Linked DNA regions of Homo sapiens. The protein of the gene in region 1 interacts with the protein of each later gene in a pairwise test. Each region holds a gene or a part of one and is shown on either strand. Other genes may lie near its edges.

What was found. The genes of interacting proteins can lie anywhere in the genome.
Region 2: the proteins of PRKG1 (region 1) and ARHGEF15 interact in binary tests that used the Homo sapiens proteins (3 or more experiments, as listed by UniProt).

The regions. Positions count from the first base shown.
Region 1 is NC_000010.11:51,076,214-51,085,396, reverse strand, and holds part of PRKG1 (cGMP-dependent protein kinase 1), read right to left. Parts: intron 1-9,183. UniProt on the Homo sapiens protein: Serine/threonine protein kinase that acts as a key mediator of the nitric oxide (NO)/cGMP signaling pathway. GMP binding activates PRKG1, which phosphorylates serines and threonines on many cellular proteins.
Region 2 is NC_000017.11:8,311,686-8,320,868, reverse strand, and holds part of ARHGEF15 (rho guanine nucleotide exchange factor 15), read right to left. Parts: intron 8,879-9,183; 5' UTR 8,830-8,878; coding exon 8,229-8,829; intron 7,948-8,228; coding exon 7,615-7,947; intron 7,369-7,614; coding exon 7,314-7,368; intron 6,852-7,313; exon of another isoform or gene 6,716-6,851; intron 5,964-6,715; coding exon 5,905-5,963; intron 5,804-5,904; coding exon 5,592-5,803; intron 5,456-5,591; coding exon 5,295-5,455; intron 5,115-5,294; coding exon 4,962-5,114; intron 4,851-4,961; coding exon 4,721-4,850; intron 2,528-4,720; coding exon of another isoform or gene 2,483-2,527; coding exon 2,408-2,482; intron 2,300-2,407; coding exon 2,207-2,299; intron 2,120-2,206; coding exon 1,959-2,119; intron 1,863-1,958; coding exon 1,710-1,862; intron 1,558-1,709; coding exon 1,475-1,557; intron 1,371-1,474; coding exon 1,266-1,370; intron 28-1,265; coding exon 1-27. UniProt on the Homo sapiens protein: Specific GEF for RhoA activation. Does not activate RAC1 or CDC42. Regulates vascular smooth muscle contractility. Negatively regulates excitatory synapse development by suppressing the synapse-promoting activity of EPHB2.

The DNA of each region.
Region 1 (9,183 bases):
CAACACAGGCTTAGCAAAATGGTACCTGTCACTTTCAGATGTTTAATATTTCTCTGTGAAGGATATGGTGACACTCTGTCAAACCAGCACAAATCTAATCTAAGGCTATCTTCTCTTACTCGCTTTAATACAAAACGTGTTACTTAGTCACCAGTGAATTAGGTAACGTAGGTATTAGGAAGATACAAGTGTGGAGCTGTGCTTCCTTTTACAGCATGTTTGCCAGCCACCTGTAGGCATGGTAGCTTATGACCAACCCACCCTATTTTCCATCTGTAGCAATTACTCCAGAGGAGCAAAACTTAGATTTTGCATTTTTCTTTTTTGTCCTGGCCATATTTTCTTCTTTCTTTTCAGTCCAAACTTAGAAGCATTGTCAAAACCATAATTTACTGATAAAACTGGACCATTAAGATGATGTACAGTATATCCAGAAGATATGTTTTTTCCTCACATTATCTCCTTATTCCTTGGCCAAGATCTGGTGAAAGCTTGATATTACCATAATACAATTGTTTCTGAAAATAGTCCAAGTATTCTGCTTAACTAGAGTGTATTTGTCATCATTGACATTCAATCCAATTAACCAAATTAAACTGACTGGATGATACTATAATTACCTCATGTTCAAAGAAGTACAATGTTACTTCTTAACAGTAGGTAGGGTCTAAAAGTGAGAAAATGACACTAAATATTAGAAGGTCAATAACATTAGATCTGTTTTTTGATGCATATTATAATCACATAAAAATAATGTAAGGTATTTACTCATGTTTTATGCCCAGCCAAAGCATAAGTAAATAGCTTACATTATTTTCTCTCCACCTCTATGTAGAAGTGAATTAAATTACATCTATCTTAAAGCAAATCTGAAGTTTAATTTACATTTATGATCTTTAGAAAGGCAAAAGTAATTAACATTATTTTATTTTTGATGCAGGTGAAAGTAGTATATCTTGGTAGTAAATTGTCACTAATTTCTTCTTTTTATATGAACTCCCATCCTTTCATAGGTTGGAATAAAAGAATGCAAAGACACAGATATTTTCCCAGTGTCCTACCACCAACTTCTGCCTATCATTCTGCTTCTAACTGCTAAGTCATAATAATTAAACACATGTTTTTGGTCATGTTTTTCATTGTTTCTAATTCCTCTTATCCCTCCCCAATTACGCGCAATAACCAAATGCACTCCATGAAGCTGGATTCATAATGAAAGTGTTTACTTTACTTATGATTAACTTCCCTGCATAATTAATGTCCCCAATCCTCCGGGTAGCCTTATTACATCTATTCTGTTTTAACATACTATCTGTCAGCTGAATACATTTTCATATTTTAGGAGTGGGGAAAAGACAGAAAAGCTCCTTGCTGACTCCGATTCTAAGATTATTTTTATCAAAAAGTATTTGCAATTATATTAGCTATTTTCATTGCTTATATAAAGTGCTATATTGGCTGATCCTCACCTGAGAAGGTAATGATTAAATTACAAATGTAAATAGGCTCCTAGCAGAGACCATTAGCAACACCTTGAGGACTTTGTAACAAGGATCTAAGGGGACAGAGGGCAGGAAAGACACACAGAGCTGGCAATAGGGGCAGCAGTGAGGTCTGACCACAGGGTTTAGGAATTCTCATTTCCCCTGGAAGTCTTCATGAGGGACACACCAAGATCTTTTATTGCAGGTGTCGTCTCCGACCTCTCAACTGCCAGCAATGCCCAGATCTGTCCACTTAAACCAAGCCTCCTGGAAAGGGGGCTGAAAGGTTGATGTGCTAGTTCTGCTTTCTCTGAAGTCTCCTCGGAAAGTACTCCTCAGCCTGAGCTCACGCTGTTTGCCTTAAAAGGATAAAATATCTGTAGGAAAAAAAAAAAAAACTGTAGCTGGCTGCAGAGACATCACATACCAAGAGAGACGCTACAAGCCCAGGACTGCTCTTCCAAGAGGCGCTCATCATTGTTTCACCTTCAACTTAGCATTGGATAGCAGGAGCTGGGACCCAAAGAAACTATCTGGCCACAGAGGCAGCTGCCCTCAGCAAGAATTTAAAAACAAAACAAACAAACAAAAAACTTGGGATGAAAGCTGATCCTAATGTGTGTCACATTTGAAAGTGGCCAGGAACCCTGGCTGGCAGGAAAGGGGAAACAAACTTACCCACTGAACAGAGCTGCTGCCACTTTTGTGTGCCCCAGGTCCTTAACAGGTAACCCCAGAGATTAAAGTGATGCTGATAGGTTCAGATGCTAGGGAGATTGGGGAGCTGAAGCTGCCTGGCTCCACTGCAAGCCAGGGACTTGGGTTGCTCAAAAAGAAACAAGAAAGGTGCTTCCCCAAAGAATAGGAATTCAAGTAGTCTGTAACAATCAACAATGAATGGGTCATAGCAGAGGTTTCTCAACCCTGGCTGAATATTATAATCACTTTGGGAGTAAAAATAATATACCTATACCTCAGGTCTACCCCAGAGCAATTAAATCATAGGCTCTGGAGGTGGTGCCCAGCAAATGTATGTTTTAAAGCTCCCTAGGTGATTGTAACATACAGCTATGTTTGAGAACCAATGGGCTAGGTAGGGAAATGATCACTTGTTTAGGAGAATAAACAAGAAGGCATCAACTAAACTACACGTACAATTTGTCTACACGTACAATTTGGCAAAAAAAAAAATCCAGCTATGCTTTCGCAGGCCCCTAGTGCTTAAAGGTTTTAGCCAATAGAGACATTCAACTCTTTAGATGAACACTTTATCCTGGTCTTTTGTTTAATATCACACACAAATGTACACACACAACAAACACACACACTCCTCTTGTCATCTTCCTATTAGAGTGGTTATCAAATTTTGCTACACGTTAAAGTTACATGGAGAATCATCAAAAATTACTGATATGTAGCTTCCAACACCCGGACATTCTGATTTTAATTGGTTTGTGGTACAATCTAGGAATTGGATTTTTATGTTCCCCATGTGATTCTAATGCGCAGGAAAGTTTGGGAACCGCCGTCCTACATTATTTCTTCCACTAGTCCCAGAGTCCTTCTGCTTCCTATTTAATTATTGGTGAACAGATACACCCCAGAGAATGACCTATATGTTATTCATAAAGTTTTCCTGCAGCTACCTAATCCCCATGACCCTTTGGGCAGTAAGAGAGCCTAGTGGCTAAGGAGAAAAGCTCTGGAGCTCAAATTCAGGCTCAACCTAGTGTGACTGTGGGCAAGTTGCTTCACTTCTCTGCGCCCCAGAGTTCTTTTTCTCATGCTGTGAAATTGGGATAATCCAGAATCTTCCTCATAGGGTTGTTTTTGTCCTAAAAAAAAGATGATCAGGTGGGGTGCGGTGGCTTACATATGTATTCCCAGCACTTTCTTTGGAGGCCCAGATGCTGGAGAATCATTTGAGGCCAGAAGTTCAAGACCAGCCTGTGCAACTGAGACCCTGTCTCTACAGAAAAAAATTAAAAATTATCCAGGTGTGGTGCTATGTGCCTATAATCTTGGCTACTCTGGAGGCTGAGGCAAGAGGATCACTTGAGCCCAGGAGTTTGAAGCTGCAGTGAGCTATGGCTGTGTCACTGCACTCCAGCCTGGGCAATAAGACAGAAAGAACCTGTCTCAATCAATCAATCAATCATTCAATCAATGAAAGAGACAATCTATATAAAGCACAGGAGCAGTGCCTGGCACAGAGTTAGTGCTCCATAAATGTTACCCAATCTGATGATGATGAGCAGTGTAATTCTTGATGCTTTCATTCAGAAGCAGGATGCACTGAGTTGTTGCCCTTATTCTTGTCCTCTGCACTGTTGGCTGCACAAACACCACCAAGTCCTCAATGATGTCAAATTAAGGAGCATTTCAAAGGGACAATACAATGCATTCAAAACAAGCACTGGTCTAATGGGAAACTATCTTCAGTATAGCTCCCTAAGAAGGCAAGCCTTCGATATACTCTAATTTGGGTGTCTCTTCTCTATGGCAGTCTTCATCCATAAAGTACTATCTTACTTGCAAGCTCTTTTCCAGTCTTGTCACCTATTTACTTGCACACAAAGCCTATCACTATTTTCCAACTTCCTTGCAAATATGGCATAGTTTTACCAATACCCATCTCGTTTCGCCCTTTCTTGTTCCCTCGATATGCATTTCTTCTTCTCACTCTACTCTCCAGCTTTTTTCATTGCTTATAAATTTCACGCTTAAAATATAGGCAGCCTCTAGAAGCTGAAAAAGACAAGATATGGAGTCTCCCCTAGAGCCTCCAGAAGGAATGCTTATATGAATTTTATAAGCAATGAAAAAAGCTGGAGAGTAGTATGCTTATAAAATTCATTCAGAAATAAGACAGTTTTGAGAGTGTACTATTAGTTCCACATTGTGTTAAACATCTGTTTTGTGTAGCTGAAGTTTTTGTGCTATTGTTTATATTTACAGGACAGTTTTGGAGGGAGAAAATTCCTCTGCTCTTACAAACAAAATTATCCTTAGAGAGTTCAAACAGGTTGCACATACTGAACTTCTCAGAAAATAAATTTTAAGGAAGTGCTGAGGAACACAGTCGTTACAGAAGATGGTGAGAGGGAAGCAGAACCGGTGTCAGAACTGAGTGTGAGGAAGCAGACAAGGGCTGTCGGGGAAGGGGTGGCAAACAGTACCAGCTCAACAATTCAGATTAGGATACAAAATGCCAAGGATGTGATTGCATAATAAGTTGTTGAGCATACTGGTAAATGCTGCTTTCAGCATGTGCTTATTTATCACATTGTCTTGCGTTCTCTGAGCTTGAAAGGTTCAAGTCAGAGGATCTGGAATGCTAGCAACAGACCCAGTTTCTTGGGATGGGCTGCAGCACCTATGGTAGAGATGGCAGAAAGAGCAGCAGCCTGGTGTTCGAATATGGTTGCTAGGATACCATGGAGACCCTCCATTGCTAGGCAGACAGAAAAAAAAATGTGTCCATATGCCTTATAACCTGCAAACAGCAACAATAGAAACATCATCTGTGTTCTTCTACCCTTTCCCATTAGGAATCCAGATAACAAGTAGCAGGAGCTTGGAAATGTGACCCAGTAGAGCAAGGAAGCTGGTAATTTATATTCTCAGGCAGGTAGTAGAGCCATTCTATTTAAGAGCTTACCAGTATCTTCATTATAAGACCCATTTTGGGGGCATGCAACTTGACTGTGCTTCAAAATACCCTAATAGGGTTTTAGCACGCTGGTCTCATACATTTTTATAAATGCTCCCGGGACTTCATTTCTACTGCATAAACTGTAATGTCAAATTAACAATCAACCTTAAATTAGAAACTCTATTAGAATAACATTAGGTTGGAATTTAACTCCTCCACAAAAACAAGAAAGATGACTTTCGAAAAACAACTTCAGGTTCAATTCTCATTGATGTTCAGTTTGCCTAGGTATGTGAGGAATCTGCAGTGCTAGTCTGTGGCATCAAGTTAGATTACTTTCAATGAGAACATTTGGAAGTGAGTGGAAAAAGGAACTTGGAACTTGGTTTCTTTAAGACTTCTAATCATCTGCTGTTTGCTTCAATTAACTACTCTTACCTAGTTATATAGTTACGACTATTAACAGGACTGTGATGGTGGGGGTAAGAAAGCTGAACTGATATTCTGGCATTCAGAACTGCATTAGTGGGTAACTATTAGTCCTTGGTGTAAAACACACACACACACACACACACACAAATGAGCCTTAGCTATTCTAAAACCCAAAAGAATGCCCTCTCGCCTACTTTATCAAATCATAGAAACCAAGATTCTCATTCTCACTGGCCTAAACTTGCTTTTCCACAGTTCCCACTACAGTACTTTAGCACAGCCACTAGTTGCTCCCAATTCCCAGAGGGGCCCTGCTTTCTTTTTCTGTGCTGTCACTTTGCTAATGGCTTGGAATGTATTTCCCCAATCCCTATCTCTATCCCTCCCTCTTTCCTCTCATTTCCACTCACCTAAATCATAGCCCTTCTTCAAATACTTACTTTAAACCCTTCTACTTCCACATGAGTTTCTGACACCATAAAACCAAACAGGCTTGATTATATTTTGCCAACTCTCTTAGTTATCTCCCCTGTGACTTACCTTACTCTATCTACTTTCTAGAATATTTACTTGTGCAGTATTGTTAACCCCTTGTTCACTCCTGGATGGTAGGACCTATGTAGCTCTTACCTCTAATGCCTTACAATATTTTGCATGTCACAGGCAATCCCATAGAAGTATTGAACTGAGATGTAGGGCACTTTTGGAATTAAATTTCTACCTTTCAAGCCATCTATGTTTTAATATTATGCCATCTATGATTACACTAGAATTCTAGAATTCTCTCAACTTCCAACAGAATTTAATATACAGTCTTTAGGAACATTTTGTTTTTCTTGAGATATATCAGTATAAAGTTTAAAAGATTAAATAATCTCTTAAAATGAATGCCTCCTTAAAAATAAAAATAGGCCGGGTGCGGTGGCTCACACCTGTAATCCCAGCATTTTGGGAGGCCAAGGCAGGCGGATCATGAGGTCAGGAGATCAAGACCATCCTGGTAACACTGTGAAACCCCGTCTCTACTGAAAATACAAAAAAATTAGCCGGGCGTGGTGGCTGGCGCCTGTAGTCCCAGCTACTCAGGAGGCTGAGGCAAGAGAATGGTGTGAACCCGGGAGGCAGAGCTTGCAGTGAGCTGAGATGGCACCACTGCACTCCAGCCTGGGCGATAGAGCGAGACTCCGTCTCAATAAATAAATAAATAAATAAATAAATAAATAAATAAATAAATATAAATAAATATTTTTATCCTCAACTCCTCCAAAGTACTTCGCAATGAAAAAGTGAAACAGGGGCCAGGTGTGGTGGCTCACATCTGTAATCTCAGCACTTTTGGAGGCCCAGGTGGGCTGATAACCTGAGTTCAGGAGTTCAAGATCAGCCTGGCCAAAATGGCGAAACCCCATCTCTACTAAAAAAAAAAAAAAAAAAAAAAAATAGCCAGGCATTGGTGGCACGTGCCTGTAATCCCAGCCACTCAGGAGGCTGCGATGGGAGAGTTGCTTGAACCCTGGAGGCGGAGGTTACAGTGAGCCAAGATCGTGCCACTGCACTCCATCCTGGGTGACAGAGTGAGACTCTGTCTCAACAACAACAACAAAGGAAAAAGAAAGGAAACAAAATAGAACATGGAGTGAAAGCAACAGCTTACAAAAATACAAAGACACTAACCACTTTTAGGAACTCAAGTCTATATAATCCAACTGAAATGACTGAAACCCTGTGACATGAAAATGGAAAAGATTTGGGAATATTTTCAAAAGATAAGGGGTTTAGATCAAAATTTCAGAGACTGAATGTTCTAACATGATATAGAATCAATTTCAGGAATGAAACTTCATGAAATAAAATTACTTAAGTCCATAAGAACTATTCTATATAGGCAATCAACAGGCTATCTGATCTCACATAATGAATGCTTAGGTTTTGTTTTTCATTTTAAGGGTTTATTTGCTCAGTTTATTTCCAAATATAGTTTAGTAGTTTTACATTCTCAAGGAGTTATTTGGTAGCAGTGGAATACAGATTCCAATTTGCTACATCAGTTCTTTCCTTCACATAAGTATTGTATCTATACAGATTGTGAAAGAGACCAATAAAAACCCTCCTCCTACCTCATAGTTATAGCAGGAGTGTCCTGGCTCAGTGCTGGAATCTGACAGAACCTTCCCTCCAATTCCCACATTAAAGGAAAAATTCCAAGCCAAAAATGTTAAAATGATTCAAGTTATTAAGTTAATTTACATTTTATACTATTTTTAAATGACCAAATTTACCAAGAAACCAGAACTAAAAAAAATTATAATCCTCAGAAGGCAACCTTAGTAAGTAAAAACTAAACAGATATATTTGCATATATCAGATAAATGAACAGAACATTAGCGGGGCAGTTACCTACATCTAAAAAAAAGAGAATCAAAAACTAGCATGAACGTAAACTGGAAATTAATGTGTCTATTTAGATAGTTTCATTTTAACTGGAAACTCACAATAATCTATATGTATGTTTAAGAAAGATGGCTACATTTAAGATGTAGTAAAGATGAAATACAAAGACACAAACACTTGTTGCCAGTAAGTCCGTGTAATCAAATTATTCATAGTGAAATACATTGAAAGGCAAACAAGTCTTCTTTGGTTTGGCAGGTTTTCTTAACTCTTTGTGGAGCTACCTTGTACAACCATTCAAACAACATAAGATTTATTCATTTTGCATACAATGTACTTCTTTTTTCCCTAAGAAAGGTACACTTTCTACTACTCAAGCCAATTTTTTTCTAGTTTTCTTTATGTAAGTGTGAAAAAAGAACAGATGTTTTTCCAAAATTATTTAAGCTTGGAAGGCATTCTATCATTTTCCTCAATAAAATACTTCAGAGTCACCCAAAGCATCATGGCAATACCTTAAGAGCTGAGTCCTTTAAAATACAAGTTATTAGTAAGAAATCAGTATCAGGACACACAGTGTTGTTTGATAGATAAAATGTTATTATAATGATAGATAAAATGTTATTATAATGGGATGCTGTAAATTATTTGCCACACCAGCTTTATTTTCCACTCTGGACCTTTTTCGTTTGTTTGTTTTTCAATCTAGATATTCTACAAGTCATGTACAAAGAGGCTTTTAAACTTATCACATTGTATAGCTCATTCCCTACTGCCTAGAATCTTGTAAATCTCTGATGGAATGTGTAACTGGAGTTATCAGCTGGCTTCAACATGCTTCACTATGAAACCTATTAAAGTGGTCTTTTTGTAAAAGCAGAGTTTGCTCTGTGTCACTCAAAAGTCCTGCGGATACAAAAATGAGATCCTATGAAATGTTTAAAGATGCAGAGAGCTGTCTTTGAGTTATTTTTTCATTATGCAAAACTTGGCCCAGGAGAGATGGTCATGTACCTCGTTAGCTAAAACAGTCAGGCATGTCAGGATTGCAAATTAATTTACCAGAGAAAGTTGAAGTTTATTCAGATCACTCAGGTTTCTAAGGCAGATCTAAGTCTGCTGAACTATTAGGGCAATTTGGTAAGGTCAGAATCTCAGAAATGTTTATCCTTATTGTCTCTTTCCAACTCCCTCGCAGAATACAAACTCCTCCCTAAACTA
Region 2 (9,183 bases), on another chromosome or scaffold:
AGGCCCCAGGAAGCCCCTTCAGCCAACCTGGGGGAAGAGAGACAGAGGCTCCAATGAGGTGGGGGCAGGGAGCAGGTGAGGAGGCAAAGGGGGCCTCGTGGGGTCTCAGGCCTTCAGGGTCATTGTAGGTGTGGGAATTCATGGACAAGCCTGGAGCATCGGTAGAAAGGGCATCAGAAGTGGAGGTGACAGCAGCTCGGAGAGAGTCTGGGCTGCTCTTCCGTCAAGCCCTGCAGTGGCTGCTCATGTCTCTTGGAGTAAGAGGTGGAGTCCTTGCAGAGACCTGTCAGGTCCTGCGTGATCCCATCCCTGCCACTTCTATGACCTCATTTGCTTCTCCCCCTTTCTCTCTCCTGCTAGTCACACTGGCCTCCTTACAGTTCCTCAGTCACACACCAGCCGCAGGGCCTTTGCACTGCCTGCTGCCTCCAGCTGGGACACTCTTCCCCCAGACACCATGGGCCTAAATTAGCTCCATCAAGCTTCATGTTGCCTTCTCAGTGAGGTCCACCTCGGCCTCCCTATTGAAAATTTCAGTCTGCCCAACCCTGGAACTCCTGACCTTCTTTGCTCTGCTCACTTTTTTTTTTTTCCATAACACTCATAACCTTCACATGTACTTTATAATTTACTTATCTATTTTGCTCATTCTTTATCGTCTGCCTCCTCTGCTAGAACGTAGCTCCAGCAAGGAAGGAAGTGTGATATATTTGATTCACAGTCCCTAGAACAGCGAGTGGCACTTTGTAGGTGCTTAATAAATATTTATTGAATGAATAAATGAAACACGGCCAGGCGCAGTGGCTCACGCCTGTAATCCCAGCACTTTGGGAGCCTGAGGCAGGAGGATCACTTGAGCTCGGGAGTTCAAGACCAGCCTGAGCAACATAGTGAGACCCCCCACCTCCATTAAAAAAAAAAAAGAATAGAAATAAGGCCTGGCACCAGAGGCTCATGCCTGTAATCCCAGCACTTTGGGAGGTGAAAGGGGACGGATCACCTGAGGTTAGTTCGAGACCAGCCTGGCCAACATGGTGAAACCCCATCTCTACTAAAAATACAAAAATTAGCCAGACGTGGTGGTGGGCACCTGTAATCTCAGCTACTTGGGAGGTTGAGGCAGGAGAATCCCTTGAACCCAGGAGGCAGAGGTTGCAGTGAGCCGAGCTCACACCACTGCACTCTAGCCTGGCTGACAGAATGAGACTCTGTCTCAAAAAATAATAATAATAAATACAAAATAAATAAATGAAAGACTTTCTCACCTTCAGGGGTCTTGTGCAGGTGTTTGGGGGCAGCCCTGGACTCCAGACTCCGTCCTTCAGTCTTGGCAGGTGCAGACGACTCTGAACACAGTTCCTGGGAACAGTCTGGTTGGGGGTGGGTGACATTAAAGTGATTCTGTTTAGCTTCTCCCCCATATTCCTCTAAGACTCGCTTTTTCTTCCCTCATCCCCTCTAGGGGGATACTCACCACAGTCCTCATAGATGGTGTCTGGGGAGCAGGGAAGGGGGCCTGGGGTTGGGAAGGCTCCCAGCCAGCGCTGCATGTCTGATCTGGTGGGGATATTGGGAAGTGTCACAGTTGGCCCAAAAGATCCTCTGGGGCTGAGGCAGGAGCCACAGAAGAGAGAGACTGGGGAAGTGGGGGAGGTCTGAGAGGTCAGATAAGTGTCCCAAGGTTGTTTTCTGAGGGAAACACAACTCACAGGGAAGAAGCTTGGAGTAGTCGGTGGGTGGGGCGGCCCTGGTGGTTGCTGAGAAGGGAGAGGCGGAAGGTAGGGGGTCCAGATGGATCCGGAACCTGCTGGGCCTGGACCAGGGAGCGATGGGCATAGTCCAGAACCTGTAACCGCTGCCCACTGCCCAGGGATGAGGTCGTTCAGAAGGACAGCAGGGGTCCCGCTGGACCCCTCCTGCCCACTCCAGCCTGGGCTCCTTCCTTCCCTAGGACTCACCTCTTAGGCTGAGTGATGAGCAGCAGGTCGCTAAAGAGCAGCAGGCAAAGAGGGGTGAAGCGGGGGCGCGAGGCAAAGAGCACGCCCCCCCTCCGGCACCCTAACTCAGTCAGCTCTCCCTGGAATTCCAGGCGCCGTGACCAGGAGACCAGGGGCAGGGCCTGCGAGGAAGCGGAGGCAGAGGAGGTTCTAGCGTGGCAGCAGCAACATGGGGCAGGGCAAGATGGGGAGCCTGGGCAGCGATGTACCTTGACTTTGTGGAAGCGCAGCCTTTGGGTGAGCCGGATCAGCTCTTCAGTCTGCTTCATGCGCCCCACCTCAGCGCTGCAACGCTCGATGATCTAGGTAAGGGGAGCTGTGTCACCACCCCAGCGGCCAGCCCCCTGCTCCCTACCATTTCTCTCTACCACCTTGTCACCTCCCCCTGCTTCAGCTTCCCCACTGCCCACCTTGCTGACAGCACCCAGGGCCTTCTGGGCATTCTCCTGACGGCTGGACCCCTCTTCTGTCTGGCGCAGGATATTCTGGGGACAAGGAGGAAGGGTGACTGGGCCCCCTGCTCTGTGGCCCTGGGATTCAGAGGGGCCACAGCTCAGAGGACCCTGTCTGTTTCAGCCAGTTTCAACAAGGCTGACAGACCTCATCACTCACCATCTGCAGAACCCTGAGCAAGTCCTGTTACCTCTCTGAGCCTCAGCTTCCCTATCTGTAAAATGGGGCTAATACCCACCTAGCATATCAATAGCATTGTTTTGAGGATTCAAGAAGGCAATATATGTAAAGTGCTTAGCATAGTTCTTGGCACATATTAAATGTTGAAAAGAAGGTTCTTATTTTTTTTTCTTCCGGAGTCTGGCTCTGTCACCCAGGCTGGAGTGCAGGGGTGCGATCTCGGCTCACTGCAACCTCTGCCTCCCGGGTTCAAGTGATTCTCCTGCCTCAGCCTCCCAAGTAGCTGGGATTACAGACGTGTGCCACCACGCCCGACTAATTTTTTTGTATTTTTAGTAGAAGCGGGGTTTCACCATGTTGGCCAGGCTGGTCTTGAACTCCTGACCTCAGATGATCCACCCGCCTCGGCCTCCCAAAGTGCTGGGATTACAGGCATGAGCCACCGTGCCTGCCCCGAAGGTTCCTATTATTTTAATAATTATTAACCAAAACTGTTAGTGCAGGCAATATAGCAGAGTAGCTAAGAGTGCTTAGATTACAATTTTGTCTCCATCAATTATTTCTGTATGACCTGAGGCAAGTTATGTGACCTGTGCCTTAGCTTTCTCATGTCTAAAGTAGGACAAGTAATAGTTCCTACCCTCACATAGTTGCAGGTAAGGTTACACAGGTGTATAGCACTTAGAACCATTCCTAGAAAGCTTAATAGCTGTTGAGCTATTTTGATTAGTATCATTATTATTATTTTGTTGTCTACAATGGGGATAGATAAAGCTGAATAAGATCATAAAGACACTGATAATCTAGTTGGGAACTCTTCACATAAAGATCCCCTCATTCACTGGGCTCAGTAGCTCACACCTATAATGCTAGAGCTTTGAGAAGCTGAGATAGGAGGATTGCTTGAGGCCGGGAGTTCAAGACCAGCCTGGCCAACATAGTGAGACCCTGTCTCTATAAAAATAAAAATTAATAAATAGCCGGGCATGGTGGCATTGTAGTCCCAGCTACTCTAGAGGCTGAGGCACAAGGATCCCTTGAGCCCAGGAATTTGAGGCTGCAGTGAGCCGTGATCGTGCCAGTGCTCTAAAGATCCCCATATTGGGAGACCTGGTTAGAAAGGACTCTCTGCTTTGCTATAGAAGAGAGTGTCTTAGGCCGGGTGCAGTGGCTCACGCCTGTAATGCCAGCACTTTGGGTGACTGAGGCAGGTGGACTACATGAGGTCAGGAGTTCGATAGCAGCCTGGCCAACATGGTGAAACCCCATCTCTACTAATAATACAAAAATTAGCCAGGCATGGTAGTCCACACCTGTAATCCCAGCTACTCAGGAGGCTGAGGCAGGAGAATCGCTTGAACCCGGGAGGCAGAGGTTGCAGTGAGCCGATATTGCGCCACTGTACTCCAGCCTGGGAGTGAGACTCCGTCTCGAAGAAGGAGATGGAGAAGAGGAGGAGGAGGAGGAAGAAAGTGTCTCAAATCTCAAACTTTTTTTTCCCCCGTATCACCCCACTAAGTTGCCTTTTTAAGATAATTTTCCCTAAACATCTCCCTCACCATGAAAGTTTAATTCTACAGATCTACTGGAACTCTGTTTATGCACTAAAGCTTAATGGAGTACAACTGTTGGAATAACTAAGATTATTTTCACCCCCAAAGAACCAATTTTTGCCCCCTTGGGGGTGATACCACCCCAGCTGGGAAGGCATGTGGGTAGAAGAATATAGCCAGAGACAACCTCAAAAACCGCTCACACACTCCCCCTGAGACCCAGCGAGCAGAAGGGACTTGCCTAAGGTCACTCAGAGAGTCAGTGGCAGAGCTAGGTGTGGAACTCATGTCTCCAGCCAGAGGGCCTTTCCCTGCACCTGGACCTAGAGGCAGTCCAGGTAAGGGGAAGAGCACAGGGCCCCTAAGGTAGGACTTGGTGAGTCCTAGGCTGAGAGACCCAGATTCGGAGTTATGATTTGGGGGATTTTATGTTTAAGGTGGAGTAGTGCATGGTGATAGCTGGAGGGCCAAGAAGCCCTCGGGAGAGTTCTCCGATGGGGTTGGTGGGGCAGAAACGGCCGCAGCTGGGACAGGTACCTGCAGCAGCATGCGCAGCCGGGTGATGCGCTGGAAGGGCAGTAGCAGGAAGGACGGCAGCGGGAGCCGCTCACACTTAGGGAGGCTCTGCAGCCGGCGCAGCTCGGCGGAGAAGCGCACGTTGGTGTCCCTGCAGAAGCAGGCATGGCTAGCGGCTGCCTGGAGGCCCTGGTGCCCCAACCTGCTGTGGCCTCGGTCCCATCCCTCTCCCCAGCTTCCTCCCCACCCCTGGGACACTCACATGAGGCGGCTGTAGGTCTCCTCCTGATACTGCTGGTTCCGCACATAATCCACATACACCGAGAAAGGCCCCACAGCGTGGGCATGCACCACATCACACAAGTCGCTGATGTGGGGGGAAGAGCGCACACGGGACAGGAGCGTTGCTAGAAACCTGAAGGAATTGGGGAAGCAAGCAATGGGGCGGGGCAGAGAGCCAGGTCTCCCGGGTTCTTGAGAGAAGGTTTGGGAACTAACTGGGTCCGTAGAAGGAAGGACCTGGGCCCGGGAGAGAGGAAAGGGCGTGCCCAGCAGCCTAAGGGCAGGTTCCCTGGAAGGACGGAAAGCCACTGACCGCTCGCTGACTCCCTGGACTCGCTGCACATTGGAGAAGAGTGTGTGGTGATCACGGGGGGTGAGCGTGTCCCGGAGTGCCTGGCTCAGCACGAAGGTGTCGGTCAGCAGCCGCAGGGAGCGCAGGTAGGAAGCCTCGGACGTCACCACCTCGAAAAGACTCTAGAAAGAAAAGCAGGCAGTCGTGGGAAGCCCAGTTCACCGTGGGAAGCTAGGACCCTGGGCCCTCCTCCCCTATGCCTGACCCATGCAGCCCAACCCCAGCACCCCCCTCCCATCTCCCACCTCCAGCTCCCACCTCCTGCATGCGCCTCTCCTGGGGGCTGAGGGTATCCAGAAGACCGCTGGCTTGCACAGCCGGAAGCTCCTGCCACAGGGTGTTGCGAGGTCCAGGGGGTCGTGGGAAGGTGGGTGCATCTCCAGCATTTGCTGGAGAAGGACTCCCATCCTCACCCACCCCCCACAGCTCCTCTGACAGCACGGCTGCTCGGTAGGTCTGGTACAGAGGTTCTAGAGGGCAAACATAGCACTTCAGGGAAGCCCAGGGCTCCCAAACCCTTCCCCACTGCTTGATGGTCACAGCAGGGACCCTCAGGTCCAGAGGCCCTCACCATCCTGCAGGGGCAGCTCCCAATTCTGCTCCTTCAGCACCTCTAGCCCCTCCTCTTCCCTGTGGAGAAAGAAAGGGAAGGAAGTCCCCAGGGCCACCACTGCTGCCCACCGTAGGGGTGCTTGTTCTCATGCTGGACAGGGCAACCCATGTGCAGGTTGGATGTAGGGACCCTGACGGCTCCCCAAATCAAACCTCAGGCTTTTTTTTTTTTTTTTTTTTTGAAGGGGAAAGGCAAGGTCTCGTTATGTTGCCCAGGCTGGTCTTAAACTCCTGGTCTCAAGCAATCCTGCCACCTTGGCCTCACAAAGTGTCAGGATTACAGGCGTAACCTACTTTGCCCGGCCCAAATTCCAGATCTTTTTATGTGCCTTTTAGAGAGGAGCCCCTGAACTAAGTGGGCCCCATTCTTATGTCAACTATTGCAGACCAGAGATTTCTGAGTCTCCTTGTCAGCCGTCTCACGTAGCAACCATTGTCTGGAACGCCCTATTTGTGTGTCAAGGAAGCTCAACGTGATGGACTGCAAACTCTCACACCTCCCACCAGCACCTGCAGCCCCTTATCTCCCCTGCTGTGGTCATCAGCACCACCACACCCCCATTCGCCCAAGCTAAAAACCACACTAGTAAATGTTTGTTGAATAAATGAATGGACACAGATAACTTCTGATAACAATGGTGAATCTAAGATAATTAACAATCCTGGATAGCATAGAAGAGATGGTCATGATTGCCAAATAGATTTTCGGACAATAATTGCAATAGAAGCTCAAGGTGAGGGAAGGGAGTTAAAATGGTGCACTCACTTACTCTGGACCCGGCTCTTCACAATATCATATCCCCACGATTCCATGAGGTGGTTCCTATGCTTAGCCCCATTTCACAGATGAGGACACTGAGACCCAGGAAGGCTACAGATTTTTTTTTTTTTTGAGATGGAGTTTCTCTCTTGTCGACCAGGCTGGAGTGCAGTGGCACGCTCTTGGCTCCCTGCAACCTCCATCTCCCTGGGTCCAAGCCATTCTCCTGCCTCAGCCTCCCGAGTAGCTGGGATTACAGGCACCCGTCACCATGCCCGGCTAATTTTTGTATTTTTAGTAGAGACAGGGTTTCACCACGTTAGCCAGGCTGATCTTGAACTCCTGACTTCAGGTGATCCTTCTGCCGCGGCCTCCCAGAGTGCTGGGATTACAGATGTAAGCCACCGTGCCCGGCCTTCTATAAGATCACAGAATTGATAAGGGCCAGAGCTGGGATTCGAAACAAGGGCTGCTTATCTCTAGAGCCCTGGCCCTTGTCCCCTCACCTTTGTGGAGGTGGGATTTAGCTGGAGCTGAAGGTTAGTCTGCCCTCAGGTAGAAGCATGGTGGGGAGAGAACCAGGGAGTAGGGGTGGGGGTGTTCAGTACCTCCCCTCCACAGTTGCTGGAGGAGTATTCTGAGGAGCTTCATCAGGACTGTCCCCTGGAGAGAGAAGCCAGAGTGAAGAGAAAAAAAAACTCCAGGATCCCCAGCCAGGACTCCCGACTCCAGCCCCAGCAGGGATGGTTACTATAAAAACTGCAACTCTCTTCAGCACCAGAGCAGCAGCTGGTGGGGAAGCAAAGAGCCCAGTGCCTGTTGGGGATTGTAGTTTGCTGGGCTTTAGTTCCCCCCTGCCTCTCTCCTGTCCCCTCACAGCCCAGAGGTCCACTCCCCCAGGCCCTGCACCTGTTTGGATTCCATCTTCAGAAAGCAGATCAAGATCTGGCTGTGGGGGGTCCCCGAAAATGGTGGCATCCTGCCTGACACGAGTTGGTTTGGGAGGCTTGAGGAGTGGCAGGAGTTTGCGCTCAGCAGTGGAGCGGTAGGATGTGAGGACAACGGCAGGGTGACCGATGCTTGGAGGGTGGGGGCGGGAGCGAGAGGTCCGCAGCGGGGAGGCCCGACGGGGGACCCTGGGGACCTCCTCATAGCCCCCCACAGGCACCCATCTGAGCTCCAGGCCAGGCCGGGTGGTGTGGCAGACACAGGGGCAGCAGGGAGGGCAGGCCAGGCCAGCATCTGTGGGAGACAGGTAGCCTAAGGAGAAAGCCCTTGGGGCCCAGCTCCACCCCCGCCCAGACCATCTCCATCTTTAACCTGCCCAGCAACTGCAATATCAAGGTCCAGGCATCTATAGATCTCCTCCACCCTGACTCCCTTCAAATCCCGACATACAGAAACCAGATATCCCAAACATTAACTCCATTTTTGAAAAGGTAGCCCCTGAAAGTTGTTAGCACTGAAAACGGAGAAGATGGGTGGATTGAGGTCACCCAGCGCCCCCCACCCGCCACACTCACCTGGAGCACCGTTCTCCTGGGACCCACTCCCGGTGAGGGGAGCTTCTCTCTCCCCATTCACATCTGCTCTCGCTTGGAGACCTGGCTCCGGGGCATCTGCATCCTGAGCCCGGCCTTCAGCACCCCCTTCAAACCTGCCAGCCAGCCTCCGCACAGTGCCAGGAGCTGAGGCAGAGCCATTCTGAGCCAGGACTCCAGCCATGGGGAGCAGAGGCGTGCAGGGTGACCCAGACGGCTTGGGTGGGGGGACTGGAGACCGGGGAGCAGGTTCTGGGGAGGCGGAGCGCCGGGACACTGGACTAGGTGTGGGGGTGCTGGAAGGTGAGTCTGGGGAAGTCTGGGAGTCGAGGCTGGCTCTAGAAGCTGAGGGGGGCAAAAGAGCAGGGGGCTTGAGGGATGCAGCTGGGGGCTCCCAGAAGATGGGGGTGCACATTGGGGTTGGTGCATCATTGGAGTTTCGGGGTAGTTCTTGTGGAGAGGAGCCATTGTGGGGAGGCCCTGGGGACTGGGCAGCCCTGGAACGAGAAGGAGGGCGGGGGCGGATGATCCGAGGGGGCTTCTGCGTGGGGGGTGTTGCTGCAGGAAGGGACTGGGCTGACATCTTCCTCTGTGCTCTTCAAAGGAGTGAGGTGCTCTGCTGGAGTCATCCCCTGAGGAGGAGGGAGGGAAAGAGAAAGACCCTTAGTGCCCCACAGGGAGGGTAAACTGGGGCCACTGGAAGGCAGGATTTTGAAGTCAGGAGGGAAGGCTGGTGTGGGGGTTCCAGAGAATCCATAAAACTCAATACGGGATACAGCCGCTCCGTGTCTGCCCACTGAACCGTGTGTCCGTGGAGTGTGTTGTGGAGGTTTGTGTGTGGTTTGTGTAGGGGGTGGCATGGTGTGTTGTGAGTGTGCGAGTTCTGTGCTTGCCGGGTGGGTGTGCAGGGGGAGAGTGGAGCATACGGTGTGTGGTG